3 linked regions of the Homo sapiens genome follow. The protein of the gene in region 1 purifies or fractionates together with the protein of each later gene. This does not show direct contact. Each region holds a gene or a part of one and is shown on either strand. Other genes may lie near its edges.

Evidence for each region.
Region 2: the proteins of SLC29A3 (region 1) and GNPTAB purify together in Homo sapiens (affinity purification with mass spectrometry; one large-scale study listed by BioGRID and IntAct). This does not show direct contact.
Region 3: the proteins of SLC29A3 (region 1) and TMEM150C fractionate together in Homo sapiens (co-fractionation; one large-scale study listed by BioGRID). This does not show direct contact.

The regions. Positions count from the first base shown.
Region 1 is NC_000010.11:71,317,939-71,322,157, reverse strand, and holds the start of SLC29A3 (equilibrative nucleoside transporter 3), read right to left. Parts: upstream 2,900-4,219; 5' UTR 2,849-2,899; coding exon 2,848-2,848; exon of another isoform or gene 2,427-2,847; intron 1-2,426. UniProt on the Homo sapiens protein: Uniporter that mediates the facilitative transport of nucleoside across lysosomal and mitochondrial membranes. Functions as a non-electrogenic Na(+)-independent transporter.
Region 2 is NC_000012.12:101,757,932-101,761,571, forward strand, and holds part of GNPTAB (N-acetylglucosamine-1-phosphotransferase subunits alpha/beta precursor), read right to left. Parts: coding exon 3,633-3,640; intron 3,416-3,632; coding exon 3,196-3,415; intron 2,213-3,195; coding exon 2,099-2,212; intron 1-2,098. UniProt on the Homo sapiens protein: Catalyzes the formation of mannose 6-phosphate (M6P) markers on high mannose type oligosaccharides in the Golgi apparatus.
Region 3 is NC_000004.12:82,559,052-82,563,489, forward strand, and holds the start of TMEM150C (transmembrane protein 150C), read right to left. Parts: upstream 2,938-4,438; 5' UTR 2,855-2,937; intron 1-2,854. UniProt on the Homo sapiens protein: Nonselective cationic channel with high permeability to Ca(2+). Component of a mechanosensitive cation channel, confers mechanically activated (MA) currents with slow inactivation kinetics. May contribute to proprioception.

The sequences.
Region 1 (4,219 bases):
GGAAACTGGGATGGTGGGGGGCGGGGAGGGGGACTTCCCTGCATTCTTATTTGTGTCTCTTGAATTTTGAACTATGTGACTAGTTTATTACCGGTTCAAAAACAAAATTAAAAGTGTAAATTTAAAAAAATTCAAATTAAGTAATAATTGTTTAAAAAACTGGTAGTGTCCAGGGCTGCCTCCAGAAGCTGGTGTGTAGCCTCTGACAGTCCATTCCCATTTCATTTGTGAGGAAAGAGAGGTCCAAAGAACTGAAGGCCATAGGCCACGTAAATGGCCAAGCCTGGGTTTGCAGCTCCTGCCTGGGTCCCACCTCTGCTCATCACACCCTACAAGGAGCCAGCCACTTTCAATCTATGGTAGCGCCTAAGATAAATGGAAGAGCCTAGGCTGCCAGCAACTATTGCCTACATGGCCTTGGGCAAGTTACCACATTTCTGTGCCTCAATTTCCCCAAATGTAAACCCAGAGAAGCTGTTTTTATGATAGTTATGCAACTGCAACTGGCTGGCAATGCCTGGCCTATAAGCAGCTGTTGAACAAATGTCAGCATCTCCCTGGCATCCTGGGCCTGTCGCATGGCTGGCTGGCTGGCTGCTGAATTTGGCTGTAAGGTAGCATGCCTGCTTCTTTGCTCTACATAGCACCTAGGATGTGGCAGCAGCTTGATAAATGAGAAATGTCTCCAAAATGCTGAGGATGGGACACTTCAGAGTCCCTTCTGCAGTAGCCTCTTCCCCACCCAATAAACTAATAAATAAATGCATCTTGGTTTCTATAGGAGGCTAAGCCTAACTCAAAGCATCGTACCAAGAAGACTGGGGCCTTTATTCCCTGGTGGGATGGGAACACCTCCTCACATGGGTGCAGAACCTTATCCACTATTTCAGGAGAACCTCAGAGCATCCCTTGGAATTAGGCAGGGCAGAAAACATTGCCCCCTTTTTTCAGATGGAAAAACTGAGGTCTGGAAGGCACTTGCTATGTCCCACAAATAGAAAGAACTCCCAATAGCTAAACTTAAGTCCAGTGATCACAAATGCCAAGGTCTGTGCCTAACAGAGGTCACACTTGAGGCTGACAACAGCCTAATATATTAGGTACTACTCTAAGACCCATTTCACAGAGGGGTCTGAGGCTCAGAAAGGTTGAGTAACTTGCCCAGGGTCACATAACTAGTAGATGACAAGAGTGAAGTTACACAGCCAAGCAGACTGGGGCCCATGCTGGACTCCTCAGCACACCGGGGAGGACTGGCTGGGAATGGGAATCTGTGTCTGCTGGTTCCAAGTACAGGCATCCTTCCTGCAAGCCTTGAAGCCAGTGAGTCGGGAGGGGCCCAGGCACACTGCAGGCACCCTTGTCAATGTTTGCTGAATGAACGGACTCTGCACGACCAGGACATTCTCCCCTGCTGGGGTAGCATGTACCCTGGAGCCAGCAGGTGGGGGGCCACTGGATGCCCAAGTGCAATGCATCCAGCCAGCAAGTCTATTTTAAACTCCCCTGGTTAGCAGAGCCCCTCCCCAGCCTGGATTCGCATGGAGGCCAGCATTAACAAGCTCACTGTCTGGAAGCTCACTGTGTGGAAAATCGCTTTTTCCACATGCACCCACTCATAGAGGAAAAGCCATGTGAAGGCACAGCAAGAAGGAGGCTGTCTGCAAGCCAGGAAGAGAGCCCTCATCAGAAACCAAATCAACCAGCACCTTGATCTTGCCCTTCCCAGCCTCCAGATCCATGAGAAACAAATTTTGTTTAAGCCACCCAGTCTATGCTATTTTGTCTGGCACAAAATGGTACAAATGTAACAAGCTCACTTGTTACATTTTAAAAATTAGTGTTTAAAATGTAAAAAATAATCATGACCCACCCACATAGAACAAGAGAGAACCGGCAAGTGGTTCTTTCCAGAGGCTCCAGCTACCTGTGGGGGCGGCTAGAAGGTCCACCAGCCCTGTCACTCAGGACCACACCTGGCTAGGGCCCCCTTCTCAGTTCCTAGCGTCTATTTGTCAAGGCTTGACTGAGCTTCTGAAGAAGGAGCCAGGAATTTTCTCTAACCAGGGTCACAGGCCAGGGCACTGGAGTGAGCAAAGTCTTATTAGTCTTTATAAAAGCTAGCTGCTGGCTTCTGGATTAAAAAATAAAGAGAAAGGCAGGCAAGGAAGTGCCCAACCTTCCCCAAAACAAGCTGGCTGTGGCCTGGAACGTGCTCCTGGGTCACCTGCGGGAGCCCGGCCATGCACAGACAGACAGCCCCACACAAGGAGGCAGGCACTGCTGGGGCCGCGGCAAAACCTCATCTGGGCTGGGAAGCCTGGGTGCTGGTTCCAAGGAGGTTCCTGACTCTGGCTAGGTGGCTCGCCCCTCTGTGCCTCGATCTCCTGGGCTGTGAACCGGGGTGGGGAGCTGGTAGGGCTAACCTGTGGGAAGGCACTGGGAAGCGCAGGGCACCGCCTACTGGCCGCGGCAGAACCGGCTTTGCGGTGTAAACAGCCCCAGCCTCAGGCCCCGCAGCTGGGACCGAGAGAATCAGCCACCGTCTGGATACTTCGGGCCGACGGGTCCATACCAGGCCCCCACCATACAGGCGGTGAGGTCCAGTCTCAGGGAGGAGGAGGGGAGAGGATTTGGGGAAGAGAAGATAGAGACCCAGAAAGAGGGGTGGCAGAGAGCAAGGAGAGAGAGGAGGGACGGTGGGGAAGGGACCACGGATGGGGTAGGGTCCTGCGGCTCCCCTGGCAGCCCGCAGCCGCCCCCAGGGCCCGGGAGGGAGGTCGCTGAGCGCGAGTCTGGGGGCGGCCGGGACCGTAGCCGGAAGAGCCCGAGCCGGCCCGCACTTACTGTCGCCGCTGCGCCACGCCGCCGCTGCCTCCGGCGCACGGCCAGGACCACTGGGCTTGGCAGGCGGCAGGCGGGCTCCTCCCCCGGCCCCGCCCCGCCCCTCGCGGCAGCACGCCGCCGCTTCCCCGTTTGCAAACACGCTTTTTTCCTTTGTCTTCTGCCGGCGCGCCGGGGCTCCCCCTTCTGGCGCTGAGCTGGGGCCTGCGTGCGCCCATTTTATAGGAGAAAAAGTGAGTCACCCAGTCTTAAACGCACTGCCCATGCTTGCGATGGGTGCGCTGCGCATCAGGCCTTTTGGTTGCTGCTCCTTCTTTACCTTGGAGCCAGACCCCACTGTCTCAGACCTCCCCTTTAGCTACTATAACCTGCACCCCAGGACTCAAAGGAGCCCTCATCTTGTCCCCAGGCCGCTGCAGAGACCCCTCTCCAAAGGCCGCTTCTACCCTTACCGGCTGCCGCTGCTCTGGAGGTGAAGCGGGACCCACACCCGGACTGAACTGGGCCTCCCAGGCCAGGCAGCTATTTTCAGTAGACCCAGAACATGGCAGTCAGCAATTCCAGCCCTCACACTTGACCTCAGCCATAGCGTGTAACACACAGCTGCCGCGTGTTCTTTAAGAAAGCAGGGGCCGGGCGCGGTGGCTCACGCCTGTAATCCCAGCACTTTGGGAGGCCGAAGCAGGCGGATCACCTGAGGTCGGGAGTTTGAGACCAGCCTGGCCAACATGGCGAAACCTCGTCTCTACTGAAAATACAAAAGTAGCCGGGCATGGTGGTGCGTGCCAGTGATCCCAGCTATGTGGGAGGCTGAGGCAGGAGAATCGCTTGAACCCGGGAGGCGGAGATTTCAGTGAACCGAGATGGTGCCACTGCACTCCAGCCTGGAGCCTGGGCGACAGAGCAAGACTCCATCTCAAAAAAAAAAAAAAAAAAAAAAAGGCGGAAACCTTCCTGACTCCCGGTCCTGGCCCAGTTGGCCTATTCAGAGCGGGGATCTGGATGCTTCACAGGGCCTGAAGATCTGTGACCATGGATAGTAAATTCTTGCAGTTGCCATCCCAGGGCTCAGGGGTGCCACAGAACCCATTGAGGCTGTCAGTGTGTGGACAGGTTCTCAGAACATCCCCACTCCCTGCCCCAGCCTCTCATTTTATAACCACCATTCCCCAAACACTGGCCTGATCATAAAAGTCTCGAGTACACATCCAGATTCTGGGGACCTCTCCCCAGGAGGGTTGCTGCCACTCCCCAATCCCTGAGGGTGGTGCTGTATCTGCTTTGTTTGCTCTTCCCTCATCGTGGGCACATAATTTGTGTTCAATAAATACCTGGATTAATACAACCCATCACTCAGGGGGTGCAGAATGGGGAT
Region 2 (3,640 bases), on another chromosome or scaffold:
CTGAAGTACACAGACGAGCTGCTCTTCTGTTATCAGCCTGACTGCGTACCAGCTCTGTGTGAGGCGTCTGGTGAATTCCCGACCCACAAATAGTCTCATAGTCTCATTTTTTTTTTTTTTTTTTTGAGACGGAGTCTCACTCTATCGCCCAGGCTGGAGTGCAGTGGCGCGATCTCAGCTTACTGCAACTTCCACCTCTCGGGTTCAAGTGATTCTCCTGTCTCAGTTTCCCGAGTAGCTGGGATTACAGGAACCCGCCACCACACCCAACTCATTTTTGTATTTTTAGTAGATACAGGGTTTCACCATGTTAGCTAGGCTGGTCTCGAACTCCTGACCTCAAGTGATCCGCCCGCCTTGGCCTCCCAAAGTGCTGGGATTAAAGGCATGAGCCATCGCACCCGGCCAATTTTTGTATTTTTTAGTATAGAAGGGGTTTCACCATGTTGGCCAGGCTGGTCTTGAATTCCTGACCTCAGGTGATCCGCCCACCTTGGCCTCCCAAAGTGTTGAGACTATAGGCACGTGCCACCGTGCCCAGCCCTAGTCTCATTCTTGACCTGCTGATTCCTATCTGCTAATCCCACTAGAGCAAGTTCCTTTAAGGCTGATACCAGGTCTTACTCCTCTATTTATCTCAACTTTATTAATTTGGTAATGTTAAGTCTTAGCACATTTAGAGAATTGGCTTTTAAGTGGCACATATCCATATACTAACCCATGCCATATGCTAAACTAATCTACACGTGATAGGCAACACTCATACTATGTGCTCTGATGGCTGCTATGCTGACCTCTTTCACCAATGGCTGCCACTTGTCACACTGTGTCTCCTCATGAGGGAGGAGGTGTCCTATCTGCAGTCATTATTTATACATGGCTTGAAGATTTGCAAGATCGTAATTTTTTAAAAATACCACTTCATTCTGATTATGAAAGCAAAATCTACTCATTGTAGAAAATATGAAAAACTCTAGTGTACAAAAAGGATATTAAAAACTACCTGTGATTTAACCTACTGTCATTTCTGTTGTCTTTTGGGGTATGTGTGTTGTATATGTACTTGGAGGATTTTTATAGTTCAACTCATACTGTCTATATGGTAGTACCCATTATTTTCTCCACCTAATTTTATTATATAAGAATTTTTCGCTGGGTGCAGTGGCTCACGCCTGTAATCCCGGCACTTTGGGATGCTAAGGCAGGCGTATCACAAGGTCAGGAGATTGAGACCATCCTGGCTAACACGGTGAAACCCCGTCTCTACTAAAAATACAAAAAATTAGCCGGGCGTGGTGGCGGGCGCCTGTAGTCCCAGCTACTCAGGAGGCTGAGGCAGGAGAATGGCGTGAACCCGGAAGGCGGAGCTTGCAGTGAGCCAAGATAGCGCCACTGCACTCCGGCCTGGGTGAAAGAGCGAGACTCCGTCTCAAAAAAAAAAAAAAAAAAAAGATTACTTTGTGAAAAAGAGCCCTGAAAATAAAGCTTAAAAAAAAAAAAAAAGAATTTTTCCATTTATCAGTAAAAAATTAACAGAAAATAGCAGATTAATGGCTGTATTATATTCATTTCATCAATTCTATGATTTTCTTCACATTATAACCTCTCTGAAACTAAAATGTCTCTTATAATCTATACTCTTTCAATTATTTCAGCCAAATGACATTCCAATGCAGTCGTGTGTTAATCACCCACTGCCCCTACTGGTAAAATGGAGTAAGTGCCAGCATTAAAGCAATTCAGCTTTGATGAACGATGATATTCCATGTGATGAATATTTCCTTGATGGTTAAACCTCAGGATTGTTCTCTCTGGCCAATGAGAATACTCTGGGGCTATTTTCTGTCACCCTTAGTAAACAGGACATCCGCTTATGGAATATAAGCAACAAATCCAAATTACGCATCTATGGGGTGAACAGTAAGATTCCAAAGCAAGCTATGAATGATTCGGATTACCTGTGCTACTGTTTTGCAACAAAGACATATAAAACCATAGAGCCTGCTGCTAGTTCTGAAGTGCTATACAGAAATGCTGTAAGTAACACTTGATAAGGATGTACTTTCTGTTGTACATAAAAGTAACCCATTCCACTTACCAGGTTGGGATCATAGTAGGATTCCTGAGTTGGTGGAATATTATTTAGCTGCGTGATATCAGCAGGAAGCATTTTTGAGCAATTTATTAGCATGTGTTCCAGACCTGTCAAATCCTAACAAAGAAAAAGATGATAAATCTGTTATGCGCATTGTAAGTAATGACTGTGGTTTTAAAAATAAAAATTAAGTGAAAGCTTCCAAAAATGGTTTAAATGCTATCTTCAAAGAGAGTCTGACTATATGATTCTTAAGATAAAGGCACTCTAAGAAGAGCAGAATGAGACAATGCCAACAAAAATATTTCATCTTCATCTCAAAGAACATTCTGGCCTCTGAGATACCCATTTACACAAGGTGGTCCAGGGCTCAGGAGAAATCATGCCCTGCAGCTAGATTCATCTGGGCACCTCCATTAGTGAGTTTCCTACTCCTGGGACTAGAGGATGCCATGAAGGAGGGGCTAGCTGAGATCTCCAGCTAGCCACACCTGAAGTCCTAGAATGAATATACCACAAGAATCTCATATGCAGGTATGGTCTGGCTCTTTTCCAGACAATACAAGATCAATCCCTACTGAAAACCTGCAAAAAGTAATTTCATAAAATACAAACCCCAAATTTGGTTATAATTCTAGCACTAAAACAGACTAGCTATGAATACCCACAGTAAATATTAAGAATTATTTTTACTTGCAATAAATTAAAATACGTAGGGGAAAAAGAGACATGGTCAGAATTAAAATTTTCTTTTCTTTTTTTTTTTTTTTTGAGACAGAGTCTCACTCTGTTGCCCAGGCTGGAGTGCAGTGGCGCAATCTTGGCTCACTGCAACCTCCACCTCCCAGGGTGAAGCGTTTCTCCTGTCTCAGCCTCCCAAGTAGCTGGAATGACAGGCGCATGCCACCACATCCGGCTAATTTTTTGTATTTTTAGTAGAGACGGGGTTTCACCGTGTTGCCCAGGTTGGTCTCGAACTCCTGAGCTCAGCTGCCTCAGCATCCCAAAGTGCTGGGATTACAGGTGTGAGCCACTGCGCCTGACCAGAATTAAATTCTCATTTAAAACATCAAAAAGTTTAGAATAAGACAATACAACACCTGCAAACTTAACGGCAGTTCGTGAATTCTGGTAGCCAGTGTTCGGATTTCTCTGTCAGACAAGACACCAGATTGATCTGTATCAACTTCATCAAAGACTTGAGATATATTCAGTGGCTGCACTGCACTCATGAGATAATAAAAATAAGAGAAGGCAAACTGCATATCCTCAGAATGGCGCACTTTGTGAAATGACGTCTTGTCAAATTCTTCAGGGAACCTGTCCAAATATAACATATTACAAACTCTGGATATTCAAAGTATGTACCGTATCTAACATTTGCAGAGATGGACTTTTTTCTTTCTCACTTAGATAATACCTTTAACATATTAGTCATCAAATATTAGAGCTATAAATTTAGCATGGTAAATATGCACATTTCAAGTAGCCTTAGTTCTGAACACAAGCAAACAACTCAAACACGAGCAAGACTTACATATCTTG
Region 3 (4,438 bases), on another chromosome or scaffold:
ATGTACTTTGTGAGATCCACCCCCTGCCTGCAAAACATTGCTCCTAACTCCACCGCCTATCCCAAAACCTACAAAAACTAATGATAATCCCACCACCCTTTGCTGACTCCTTTTTCGGACTCAGCCCACATGCACCCAGGTGAAATAAACAGCCTTGTTGCTCACACAAAGCCTGTTGGTGGACTCTCTTCACACGGACCCATGTGACAGGGGCTGGGCACAGTGGCTCCTGGCTGTATTCCCAGCACTTTGGGAGGCCGAGGCGGGTGGCTCAATTGAGGTCAAGAATTCAAGACCAGCCTGATCAACATGGTAAAACCCCGTCTCTACTAAAAATACAAAAAAAAAAAAAAATTAGCCAGGCATGCTGGTGGACGCCTGTAATCCCAGCTACTTGGGAGACTGAGGCAGGAGAATCGCTTGAACCCAAGAGGCGGAGGTTGCAGTGAGCTGAGATTGTGCCACTGCACTCCAGCCTGGGCGAGAGAGTGAGACTCCGCCTCAAAAACAAACAAACAAAAAAAGTAGGGACACACTTATTACACACCTGTGTCTAGTCCTACGCTTTTCATGAACTTAGACCTGGATTCAATAACACTTGGACCCTATAATGTTTTGGGAACTTCAGCACACATCTCATTGGACCCTTACCAGAACCTAATCACACCGTAGTGCTGATTCTAAGTGTTACAGATTCTTCTGTGAAAGGGGATGACTGAGAAGTAATACATTATCTTGTCAGTGCTTGTCTTGCTTAATTGGTTACTGAACTGATCCCAAATGGCCAGATTGCAGTGAAACCAAATGGCTGAGATTGCGGGGTCCAGCTAGCTTTTCCTCTCTCATGACTCCAGGCTGCCCTGCTAATCTGACCCACTGTACTAAAGAGGTGTGGGTCACAGGCGAGACAAAGCAGGAAGACAGACAAGAGTGTAAAGCAAAGGGCCTTCTCTCTTGACAATTGCAAAGCAGATAAAGTGAGCCCAAAAACCCCTGCAAGGTCATTGTGAACATGATTGTGGTAGTTCTACAACAAAGGCTAAATAGAACGCATTATTGTGTTCACGCAAAAAAAAAAATTACTCCATAGAGCAAATTATCCCCCCACAAAGCAACATGGAAAAGGTATTTGTAAGAAATGCATGAATTAAGCAATTGCTCTGAAGACTTAAATGCCAATTTAAATAATCCAAACAGATTGCATTCAGCTAATGGCAGATTATAATAAACATGCATTAAAGTGTTTTTCAAATACTTTAATATATTTGTGAATGTCATAACATCTATCAACTAGTCATTATTGTTAGCAAAACTTCTTTACCCTTTTATTTACCATGTCCAGTTTGTGAGCTTCCAACTTGGGGGACTTGCAAAACATTTATTAAATAATGTATAAAGGACACACCATTAAAATTCCTACGCTTATGCCTTGAAGATTAAACTCACATTTCTAGCTCATTAATAGATGACAGCTATAGTTAATCCTGGAAACATGGAGTCTCTAGAACACATACAAGAAAAAGTTTGGGATTTGATACATGAGAGCTGAGACTAAAATTCTTTGATCGGTCACATATATGGGCCTAACAATTTTTCCTTGAAATAGGAAACTTTAAGTAGGTCAGTTTAATGACTGCTACCATGGAGTTTATAAATCCACACTCAACTATCCTTTCGATGAACTGCTGCCCAGAATGGAGTTATAGCCCTGCACTATTAAAATGTCTTTGGTTCAAGCAGAGAAAGATGCAGAAACTGATCCTGCCATTTAGGCTTTGTTATTGTTTTAGATCCAATAACTGTTTGGTTTTGTTTTTCAACATGGCATTGGTATATCTGGTTCCCCAACAGGACCTCGCATGTAGGACATCGGAGTGGGTTCACTCGGGAAGATGGACTTCCATTCTACCTGAGCTATGTTCCCACATGCGGTCACAATCCTGGCCCAACCGTGAAAGGCGGTCTGGCCGGAATAAACCTGACCAAAAAGATCAGTGAAATGTGTGGGACATCATAAAGTGCTGTGGGGGTAGGGGTGGAGGAAAGGAATGAGTAGAGAAAAAAGGAGCATGAATTTAAAATGGGAAAACCCTCTCATACTCCATTTGATTCATTTAAGGAGGGGAAAACCACTCAAGGACTCTCTCCAGAACCCAAAGCTAATCACTTTTTTATTGCAGCAGATTACCAAAGAGCCTAGGTAACCCACCTACCACGGCCTCCCGCCGAAAAACCAAAAATCCCATTTCTTCCCAAGTGTGCGCCCAGGAAAGGAAGGAAGACTGTGCATTTAGAGTGGAGGGCGGTACACAGGGCAAAGCAAGTTAGTGCCTCCTTCCCAGATCCCCTGCTTCCCGAGCCAGCCTGACCTGGCTAACCGCAAAGTGCAGGGAGAATGGCACAGGGACCGGGAGGTCAAACTTGGGGTCGCTTCTCACCCGAGTCCACCCGATAACGAGATGATGGGGCGGCGGGTGGGGACACCTGTCAAAGGACGGGGCCGGGGCCGGGGCCGGGGCCGCAGCGGGCGGGCTGGCTGGCGGCACTGCGGCGGCGGGGACCGAGGCGCGCCGGCTCGGGCGTTCGCAGGTCGCGGGGCAGAGCCGGCACCGACTCCTGGACTTGCCGGGGAGCGTGCGCCCGCGGAGGGCTCGGGCGGGCGGCCCCGCGCCCGGGACGCTATGGGAGGGGGCCGCAGCCGAGCAGGGCCCCGCAGCCGGGCGGACCCAGCCGCCCCAGCCGCGCTGCAGCCCCCGCCGTCCCCGGTCTCCGCCTGCGGGCTGCGCACGGGGCCGGGCCGGACGCCCCCTGGCTGCGCGACGGGCCCAGGCAGGGGAGGGGGCGCCGCGCCTACCTGCTCTGGTGCGGCGGGGCCGCTGTCGCCTCGAGGGGCTGTGACCTGCTGCGGTGGCGGCGGCGGCAGCAGTAGCGGCGGGTAGGGCGCTTCCTTCAGGAAGGGGTGGGATCTGCTCACCCGCCCGCCCGGCCCCCTCCTGCCGCGCCGGGGCCCGCCCCCGACTTATTCTGGGGTCCCCGCTGCTAGGCCTTCGGGGAGAGTTGATCCCCTGGGTCTCGGGCTTCTGCCACCCCCCCGGGGCCCCTAATAGTCACCCGGGGCAGGAGCCGGGTGTGGGCGGGCGAGCCGCTTCCTTCCGAAGCCTTTGTGGACGCGTTTGCCTGGCGCTCCTCATCCAACAAAAGGAAGGACAGAATCTTGGATCCTCCGCCTGGTGGTTATTTATTCCTGACCTGTTGTAACCTTCTGCCTGGCTCTCTTTCGTCCGCACACCTAGGGTTTTTGCACAAAGCAGCTAAAATTCATTTTCATGCCCATTGACTGAATGTAGTTCTCCTCCACTCAGCGCTGTCCCGCGGTTTTTGGTTTTTTTTTTTCCATCCTATTGAACAAACACAGAGCCAACTTCGGACCCTGGCAATGAACAGCAGACACCAAGGCCGACCTCCCAGCGCCAGCTTGCAGCTTTCCTCCCTGGGTCTCGTCTGAGTCCGTCATAAACTGTGTTCATCAGCGTTTTGACAGCTTCCCCCATCCCGGACCCCCAACCTACCATGGGACCCCATGGCACCATGTCAGTGACCTCTAGCAGCAGCATGGATCAATGCCATTTTTATCTTAGGCTCATCATGAGCCTGGGTTCCAAACACAACCTCTCTGGCCTCCAACAGGTGGCTCTCTATCAACCGGCCTTTGTCAGTCTGCCCTCTATTCTTTTGGGGGCTTCCGTAGCACACCTGTCTCCTTTAAACTGCTGTCTCTACACAAGCAGGCATTCCCTTTTTTTCTTTTTCTTTTTCTTTTTCTTTTTCTTTTCTTTTCTTTTCTTTCTTTTTTTTTTTTTTTTTGAGACGGAGTCTTGCTCTGTCGCTCAGGCTGGAGTGCAGTGCCGCAATGTCGGCTCACTGTAACCTCTGCCTCTCGGGTTCAAGCGATTCTCTCGCCTCAGCCTCCTGAGTAGCTGGGATTACAGGCGCCCGCCACCATGCCCGATTAATTTTTGTATTTTCAGTAGAGGCGGGGTTTCACCACGTTGGCCAGGCTGGTCTCAAAACTCCTGGCCTCAAGTGATCCGCCTGCCTCAGCCTCCCAAACTGCTGGGATTACAGGCGTGAACCACCGCGCCCGGCCCAACCAGGTGTTTCTAAGAATCTTCTCCAATTCAGCATATTCAAATTCTGCAATTAACGTTCGGTTCCAGAACTCTCCCTTCCCCACAATTCTTGTGATTATTGTCTACTATGTGTATATTGATTCTTTTTTTTTTTCTGTATGTTGATTTCTTGTTACTGTTTTCTCCTGGCTACTAGACTGTAAGCTTCCTGAGACCAGGGATCTTGCCTTCTCTTGTTTTCCTTATTTTAATGAGTGGGACTGTTATCCATTCAATTAAAATAGCAAAAGCAAAAACTGAATCTTAGT